2 linked regions of the Homo sapiens genome follow. The gene in region 1 interacts genetically with each later gene. Each region holds a gene or a part of one and is shown on either strand. Other genes may lie near its edges.

Region 1 (5,129 bases):
ATCCCAGCACTTTGGGAGGCCGAGGAGGGCGGATCACCTGAGGTCAGGAGTCTGAGACCAGCCTGACCAACATGGAGAAACACCCTGTCTCTACTAAAAATACAAAATTAGCCAGGCATGGTGGCGCATTCCTGTAATCCCAGCTACTCGGGAGGCTGAGGCAGGAGAATCGCTTGAACCTGGGAGGCGGAGGTTGTGGTGAGCCGAGATCGTGCCATTGCACTCCAGCCTGGGCAACAAGAGCAAAGCTCGGTCTCAAAAAAAAAAAAAAAGAAAAAAGTACAATTACTACTTCCTTGAAGTTAAGCATGAAGATATTGATCATTATGATTTTTAAAATTATATTATGATTTTTTGATATAATGGTGTTTATTAATAGAGATGTTATTACATAGCAGTAATATTCTTTATAAAATATGATTAATAGTTTATTTGGAAAACAATTTGTAGACCTTTTGATCCTCAGTATTATGAAGATGAATTTGAAGATGAAGAAATGCTGGATGAAGAAGGTAGAACCAGGTTAAAATTAAAGGTACCATTTCATGCTTTTTCCTTTTTTTTCTTTTATAAAGTAAAACCTGGAGATACTAACTTGAAACTTGAGCTTTTGAAAGTGATTTTTTTACCTAACACTTCACTATATGGCTGTGTTCTTTTGATTGCTTTTGTTGACTATTAGGAAAGAATTTTATTGTACTAAATTCCCATTAATGCTTCTCTTTGATACCTTATACCATCTGGTCACGCTATCAAAGGAGGGCCTCTAATCTTTTAAGTAAGGAGGATGTAGGTTCAGCAGAAGTTTCATCTTTTTATTTTGAGACACGGTCTTGCTCTGTTGTTCAGGATGGAGTACAGCGGCACAAACCCAGCTCTTGGCAGCCTCAATTTCCTGGGTTCAAGTGATCTTCCCATCTCAGCCTCCTGAGTAGCTGGGACTACAGAAAACATGCCACCATGCCCAGCCTTTTTTTTTTTTCTGTAGATATGAGGTCTTGCTGTGTTGCCCAGGTTGATCTTGAACTTCTGAGCTCAAGTGATCCTCCCGCCTTGACCTCCCAAATTGCTGGGATTACAGGCATGATTGCTACTGCACTTGGCCAAGTAGACATTTTAGAATTGAGTTGCACAAGGGAACAAGAGGTGGTTGAATGCATGATACTGAAACTGGAATTATGCATTTTCAATTCTTAAATCCGAAGGATTTCCTGTAAATTTCTTATTTTCTAGTGGGTATTTATATATTTTTTTTTGAGAAGGAGCATCGCTGTGTCGCCCACGCTGGAGGGCAGTGGCATGATCTCAGCTCACTGCAACCTCTGCCTCCTGGGTTCAAGTGATTCTCCTGCCTCAGCCTCCCAAGTAGCTGAGACTACAGGCATGCACCACCATGCCCAGCTAATTTTTGTATTTTTAGTAGAGACAGGGTTTCACGATGTTGGCCAGGTTGGTCTCGAACTCCTGACCTCAGGTGATCCACCCACCTCGGCCTCCCAAAGAGCTGGGATTACAGGTGTGAGCCACCGCGCCTGGCCTTGGTACCTTATTAAATTGTTAGAAAGGGATAGTCTGGCATTTTTTAGGCACTGAATTTTTATATTTTTAATAGTACCATCTCTTCAATGTGGTATATTAACAACTACCTAAATAACCTTGATATAAGATGGTTTCTATCCAAAAGCTTTTCAGTGAGACTTCACTACTCCTCTTAATGGAAATGCAAATCAAATAAGAAAACTGAGATAAACAGGTGCTAATAATTTGTTCAAGATCACACAGTCAACAGATATACTGCTTACACTATTTTTTTTTCCTGTCCTCCCTCCACCACCCATCTACTCATCTGTTTATTAGCCCATCTGTTAATATTATTTCTTTGGGACACATGGATGTATTGATTTAGGCTTAGCAGTATCAATTTTTCATGGTTGTTTTAGTGCCTCTGGCTTTAATTCTACTACTTTTCATTGTTTCCTGTCATATACATATAAACTAATATAGTAGTTCCTTATTCACTTTTTATCAATTTATTTAATTTTGTCTTTTTCCTTTTTCTTACTTTCTGTCATGATGCTACAGCTAGTATCAATATATCTATTATATTTTTAGACCATGTGATACCAGATTCTAGTATGGGTGTCAGACTTCAAAGGCCGGGCATGGTGCCGCATATCTGTAATTCCAGTACCTTGGGAGGCCGAGGTGAGAAGACTGGCCAGGAGTTTCAGACCAGCCTGAGCAACAGAGCAAGACCTTGTCTCTACTAAAAATAAAAAAAAATTAGCCAGCAGAGATGGCGCATGCCCATAGTCACAGCTACTCCAGGAGGCTGAGGCGGGAGGATTGCTTGAGCCCAGGAGTTTGAGGCTGCAGTGAGCTGTGATTGTGCCATTGCACTCCAGCCTGTGCAGCACAGCGAGACCCTGTCTCCCCCCCAAAAAAAAATTTATAAATATGTATTTTACCCTAAAATTTCAGTGCATCAGACTACAAAATGTTGGTGTTTAACATAAACTGTTGTCTTAAAACCTTGGTGTGTGATAGGAAATAACCCTGGACCCTTATTTTCTTGAGTGATGTTTAAGACTACGCTGACCAGTCTTAAAGCATGGTGTAGTTAATTCTTTAAGAACAAGGAACCAGGGAACCAGGTACAGCTTATGTACCTCTCTGAGGTCCCCTGTCTTCAGAAATACTATTATGTGTCCTTCATCCTGATAGGTTAAGACCTAGCAATGTGTCCTATTATAGCATCATTACTATTTGAATCACTTTATATAATAGAAAGCATTTTTTAGAACGGCTTCTCAATTAATAATGGCCTATTTGTGGTTTTTTTTTTTTTTTTTTTGAGATGGAGTCTTGCTCTGTCGTCGCCCAGGCTGGAATGCAGTGGCGCAATCTCAGCTCACTGCAACCCCCGCCTCCCGGGTTCAAGCAATTCTCCAGCCTCAGCCTCCCGAGTAGCTGGAATTACAGGCACATGCCACCATGCCCGGGTAATTTTTGTATATTTTTAGCAGAGATGGGGTTTCACTGTGTTGGCCAGGTAGGTCTTGAACTCCTGACCTCAGGTGATCTGCCTGCCTCGGCCTCCCAAAGTGCTGGGATTACAGGTGTGAGCCCTGCACCCGGCATATTTGTGTATTTATATGTGGCCAACCTATTGTATGAGATGGAAGACAGGAATAGTGACAGATTGTTTTGTTTTCAATCTGAAAATTTCAAACATACACCAATGTATTAAAAACAATATAATGAACTCTTTCATGTGCCCATGACCCACTTCAACAGTTGTCGAGTTAACAATCTTTTGTCATCTACATATTCCCCACCCCAGCTTCCCCAGACTATTCTGAAACAAATTTCAGGTATGACATCATGTTTAATTCATAAATATGATGGAGTTATTCAATCAGCACACTTTATAGCTATTTGTGAGGAATAAATAGGGAAAGGGGAAAAACTGGAAGGGGGAATCATTAGGACCCAGCTGCACAGACATTTGCAGCTAAAGGAGTGGAGATCCAGACGATCTCCGTGGGACTGGGAGCAGCTGTGTTTAGGATTGACACTGGGGGAACAGGCAGAGGGAAGCATGGTCTTGGCATTGGCAGTTTTCACATTGTTGGCTTCTGTCTGTTGCCAGCTTCATTCTCATTCTTTCTATCCTTGTATGTCCTGTTTTTACTCTTCATTGTCATTTTAGTGGGTTTCCAGGAGGCAGCAGTGATAAACTGCATGCGTTTAGTATGCCATGTTTTCCTGGAGATCCCACTGACTTTACTTTCAGTAACAGTGGTTTTCATTTGCCAACTCTGGTGTTTCCCCACCATGCAGGTAAGATAGTTAGGCTCTAAACCTATTGAAATCTGGGGTTTTCATTTTCATAGGGCACTTATTTATCCTTATTCATATATGGGAAGTTTATCTCTCTGTGCCAATAGGCAGAGTTTTTGGTCTCATTTTTATGGAGTTTTTAGCTCTGTGAGAGAACTTGCTTTATACAGGGGTTTCACTTCAAAATTTCTTCCTCGGCCGGGCGTGGTGGCTCACGCCTGTAATCCCAGCACTTTGGGAGGCCCAGGCGGGCGGATTATGAGGTCAGGAGATCGAGACCATCCTGGCTAACACGGTGAAACCCTGTCTCTACTAAAAAATATGAAAAAATTAGCCGGGCTTGGAGGTGGGCGCCTGTAATCCCAGCTACTGAGAAGGCGGAGGCAGGAGAATGGCGTGAACCCGGGAGGCGGAGCTTGCAGTGAGCCAAGACTGCGCCACTGCACTCCAGCCTGGACGACAGAGCAAGACTCCGTCTCAAAAAAAAAAAAAAAAAAAAATTTCTGCCTCACATGGACTCAAGTTTTATCGCCTGACCCTTGTAATTCTTACTGTCTTAACACATCTCGGGGTTAGTGTACATTTAGTATCTGCCATCTGCTCAAATGCTCTAAGCTTTCTCTATGATTATGATTCTAGGAGCTCAGAAATTCACTTAAGCATATTTTTTTCCCTGCTTTTAATTTATCCAACCTCTCTAGGTGATTAAAGAGGGTTTCAGTGTTGTTCATTCTCCTGCCACACATACATCTGTCACCTCTGTATGCTTATTCTGTGATTATGTGCCTCTTGAGGAAAAACAAGATGCATAGAGTCATTTAAACTATAATTTTCTAAAGTACTTGTGTTGTGAAACAGGTAGAAAATACTATAAGATGGAGGATACGCCGAGATGAAGAAGGAAATGAAATTAAAGAAAGCAATGCTCGGATAGTCAAGTGGTCAGATGGAAGGTGAGCACAAAACGCCTGAAGGGTATTGACATACCCAGAACGGGTCAGAGGGATCAAGTTTTGAAATACTTTTTAGTTTTAAATTTATTATTAGTTTTAGAAATGGGGTCTCACTCTGTTGCCCATGTTGGAGTGTAATGACATGATAACAGCTCAGTGGAGCCTCAGACTCCTAGTCCTAAGTGATCCTCCCATCTCCCAAGTAGCTGGGACTACTTGGTGTGCACCACCCTGCATGGATTATTAAAAAAAAAAAAGAGCCAGGCACGGTGGCTCACGCCTGTAATCCCAGCACTTTGGGAGGCCGAGGTGGGTGGATCACGAGGTCAGGAG
Region 2 (4,332 bases), on another chromosome or scaffold:
GACACAAGAAAAGCTGTGCTGACTTTAGCCTCTTGGTGCCCTAGAATTTTTGTCTTACTGCAATTAGGCTGGGCACAGTGGCTCACACCTGTAATCCCAGCACTTTGAGAGACTGAGGCAGGAGGATCGCTTGAGCCCAGGAGTTGAGACCAGCCTGGGTAACATGGCAAGACCTCATCTCTACAAATAATAAAGAAATTTAGATGGACGTGGTGGTGCATGCCTATAGCACCAGCTAATCTGGAAGCTGAGGTGGGAGGATCACCTGGGAGGTCGAGGCTGCAATGAGCCGTGATCTCACCACTGCACTCCATCCTGGGCAACAGAGTGAGATCCTGTCTCGAAAAAAATTAAAAAATAAATAGAATAACAAAGCAGTCTAGTCCCATGGAGAGATAGGAAGGATCCTCAAATGTGGAAGACCCTAACCCAGACAGGACTGTGGCTGTCTAACAAACACCAGTCTCAAAAAAAGCAAGCTTAAGAATGAACTTATTATAGTATCAATGCGGTGATTACAAATTACTCAATATTTCCTAAAGACCATGAGAACTCCAGAACCCATTCTTACACAGGCCCTGTGGAAGAATCCAAGCAGGAATAATTGGATTATTTCCAGCCAGTGACTTTCAGGAGGACCACATATCTTCAATGTCTTCACATTGTATCTGAAAAATGTATCTGAAGCACTCAAACACCAAGTCTACTCAAATACGCTTCCCAAGCAGCTTTTCTGTACATCTCTGCTGCTTCCAGACGATCAGCTGCTGAGATTATGCCACGACCTACAATGATGATATCGGAACCTCGTTTGCCAATAACTTCTTGTGGGCTATTGTACTGTTGGCCAAGATTATCTCCTGCAAGAAACACAAAAATTGTTGTTTCACATAATACAAAAATCAGAAAACCTGTCACATGACTTCTCTGAAAAAGTATCTAACCAGCTTTAAATAAAAACATGCCCCTACTTTCGTTCCCCTTTTGTACAGCAACTGCGTAAAAACAGGAGCTGAAGAGACTCACTGGGTAGGCCAGAGACGTCAAATGGAGAAAGATGATCACCAACTCCTTTTCAATGGTAAAGTTTATTTTATTTATTTATTTATTTATTTATTTTTATTTATTTATTTTTTTGAGACGGAGTCTCGCTCTGTCACCCAGGCTGGAGTGCAGTGGTGCTATCTCGGCTCACTGCAAGCTCTGCCTCCCAGGTTCATGCCATTCTCCTGCCTCAGCCTCCCGAGTAGCTGGGACTACAGGCGCCTGCCACCACGCCTGGCTAATTTTTTGTATTTTTTAGTAGAGATGGAGTTTCACCGTGTTAGCCAGGATGGTCTCGATCTCCTGACCTCATGATCCGCCCGCCTCAGCCTCCCAAAGTGCTGGGATTACAGGCATGAGCTACTGCGCCCCGCCCTATTTATTTATTTATTTTTTTGAGACAGAGTCTTGCTCTGTCACCCAGGCTGGAGTGCAATGGCACAATCTCAGCTCGCTGCAACCCCCGCCTCCCGGATTCAAGCGATTCTCCTGCCTCAGCCTCCCGAGTAGCTGGGATTAAAAGCGTGCACCACCACGCCCGGCTAATTTTTGTATTTTGAGTAGAGACAGGGTTTCACCATGTCGGCCAAGCTGGTCTTGAACTCCTGACCTCAGGTGATCTGCCCACCTCGGCCTCACAAAGTGCTGGGATTACGAGCGTGAGCCCCCGCACCCAGCCTTATTTATTTTATCATTATTTTTTCATGTAATTTTTTTCCAGAAGCATAAATTCAAGTTGCCCTAAATATTCACCCCCTCAATGTCAAATTTTAGATCATCTGTAGCTTAACAATATATTAAAAAAAGAAGTAAAACTCATATGTTGCAAAGAAAGGTTCAATATCAAAAAAATACAATAAAGATTGGCCTCACAATTGAAGAAAATTTTAGCACACATCTTAGAATCACCACAAGGCACTGCTGAGCAAGTCTAACCTGACCACTACCATATACAAGAACCCCATCAAGTGGTCACACAGACTATCCATAAACCCGAATCCTTAAATTTTGCTTTTTTATTAAATTCCGCTGTTTCAGAAGCATTCTGTTAAATGGCTTATTATCTTCCAAATCCAAGATACTTTAAGTATTCTTAAAAGCCTAGACCCTAACTATAATATCTAGTCAAACAATTATTAGGGCTTACGAATAAGGGCTTATAAGTACAGAGTGTTTACTCTGTGCCAAGACATTGTGTTAAATATTCTACATGTTATCTCATTAAAGCATCTTGATTACCTTATGAGGTCAATACTGTTATCATCCCCATTTTACAGACAATTAGACTAAAAGAAGTAAACTGACTTGTCCAAAGATACATAGTTACCAAAGGGCTCATTCATTATTGTTCTAGACTAAGAAGGCTTTTCTTAAGCAAGTGTATAATAATATGCAAAGTTTTATTTTGCCTGCCATGGGTAAAGAAGCATTTTTGGAAGAGCCACGACCAGTGACCAGATTTACCTCCTGCTTCCAACTGAACTCCTGGAGTCAAGTGAAGAAATTCTGGTTTCATGCTTACTCGGGAGCCAGAAATAAAACCAACAACAAATTCAGAGTGCTCCTCAGCCATTCTAACCTAAATGGAATGTAATAGGACATATTATAAGAAAACAGTTAATCACACAGAATAAAAGTAAAAATATGCTCTATTTTTTCAAAACTTAAAAAAAAAAAAAAAAGACATGAGGTCTCCCTATGTTCCCTGGCTGGTCTTGAACCCCTGGGCTCAAGGGATCCTCCTACCTTGGCCTCCCAAAGTGCTGGGGTTACAGTTGTAAGTCACCATGCCTGGCTTATGCTCTATTATCTAGTTAGAAACTTTGCTGTATTATAGATGCCTTTTCTCATTCCATATATATAAAGTTACTATATCTGAAACAGGTCATCTTAGATAGAAACCATAATAAAACACATCTGCTTCATTAAGACTCTGAGATGACCCTTTCCCTTCCCTTCCCGCAATAAACCATACGTAAAGCAGAAATCCTATACTATATGCATCTAAAATCAAGATGCTGCATAATTTCTTATTTCTAATAATGCTTGGTGACCCACCTACTTCCAAAAAGGATTTGAGGCGAGTACTCTAGAACATATTATAATGGTATGAAACCACATTCAAGGCTTACTGACTATCTACAGACGGGGTACTCCATATCCAAAGGCAGCTGTCATGTAAAGAACAGCTACGCTTTCAAGAGCTAAAGAAATCTCACCTCTACCACTTTCCCTCTTCTGTAACATCAACTGGTCTCCCCAATTTCTATACTATTATCTCACATTCATAAAAGTCTCTTTAGAAGGTCTGCCTGGCTTTCTGATTCGGTAGGTACTTTCCCCGAGACGTGACTCCCATACTTCCCTTCTTATTTGATACTTCCCGGAGACCAGACTCAGTACCACCACTGCACTCCAGCCTCGGTACTTCGAGACCTGAGACACACATTGATACATTCATTCTTGCCACCAAGTACTACTGCCAACAAACAAGTCATGTCTTGTCCTTGAGCCAGACCCAGACTCCCAGAATGCCAAATATTAAAACTGACTCATGGCCCCTGTGATTTTGAGACTTGGGAAATCAGACAGTTATAGTCAATTCAGGGATAGGGTTAAAACCTGACTGTAGGGCCATATGAGTTAAGTCTCCAAATAGTCTGAAATAATATGAAAAAATGGAAATCCTTTACTTCTAGAATCTTCACATGGGGATTGTCTTGGGGATTTCATTTTTAAAAAAATCATGGGGATTTTCTTGGGGCTTTTTATTTTTAATTTTTTTTGACAGGCTCTTACTCTTGCCCAGGCTGAGGTAAAGTGGCATGATCATGGCTCCCTGCAGCCTTGAACTTCAAGCTCAAGCGATCCTCCCACCTCAGCCTCCCAAGCAGCTGGGACTATAGGCACGTACCACCATGCCTGGTTATTTTCTTTTTCATTTTTTTGTAGAGACGAGATCTCACTATGACGTCCAACTCCTGGCCTCAAGCAATCCTCCCGCCTTGGCCTCCCAAAGTGCTAGGATTACAGGTGTGAGCAACTGCGCCCAGCCCCCTATGGCAATTTTTTTAAAGTAATATTATATTCTAAAATATCTGACAAGAATAAGAGAAAGCCACTGCATGTGGGCTGCTGTCATGGGAATGTGCATCTCTGTAGGACTTGGGAGATTCTGAGAAACTGCATGTCTGGGAAGCTCTTCTCATCTTCTCTCAATTCATGGTAAGATGAAAAAGACATTATCTTAAAGTCCTGGTAGATTTAGTAAGTGTTTGTTTGACTAAC

Evidence for each region.
Region 2: changes in LEO1 (region 1) and UMPS together harm fitness more than expected from each alone (negative genetic interaction), as found in Homo sapiens cells (one large-scale study listed by BioGRID).

Annotation. Positions count from the first base shown.
Region 1 is NC_000015.10:51,954,148-51,959,276, reverse strand, and holds part of LEO1 (RNA polymerase-associated protein LEO1), read left to right. Parts: intron 1-450; coding exon 451-535; intron 536-4,701; coding exon 4,702-4,796; intron 4,797-5,129. UniProt on the Homo sapiens protein: Component of the PAF1 complex (PAF1C) which has multiple functions during transcription by RNA polymerase II and is implicated in regulation of development and maintenance of embryonic stem cell pluripotency.
Region 2 is NC_000003.12:124,740,443-124,744,774, reverse strand, and holds part of UMPS (uridine 5'-monophosphate synthase), read right to left. Parts: intron 2,624-4,332; coding exon 2,509-2,623; intron 861-2,508; coding exon 691-860; 3' UTR 1-690. UniProt on the Homo sapiens protein: Bifunctional enzyme catalyzing the last two steps of de novo pyrimidine biosynthesis, orotate phosphoribosyltransferase (OPRT), which converts orotate to orotidine-5'-monophosphate (OMP), and orotidine-5'-monophosphate decarboxylase (ODC), the terminal enzymatic reaction that decarboxylates OMP to uridine monophosphate (UMP).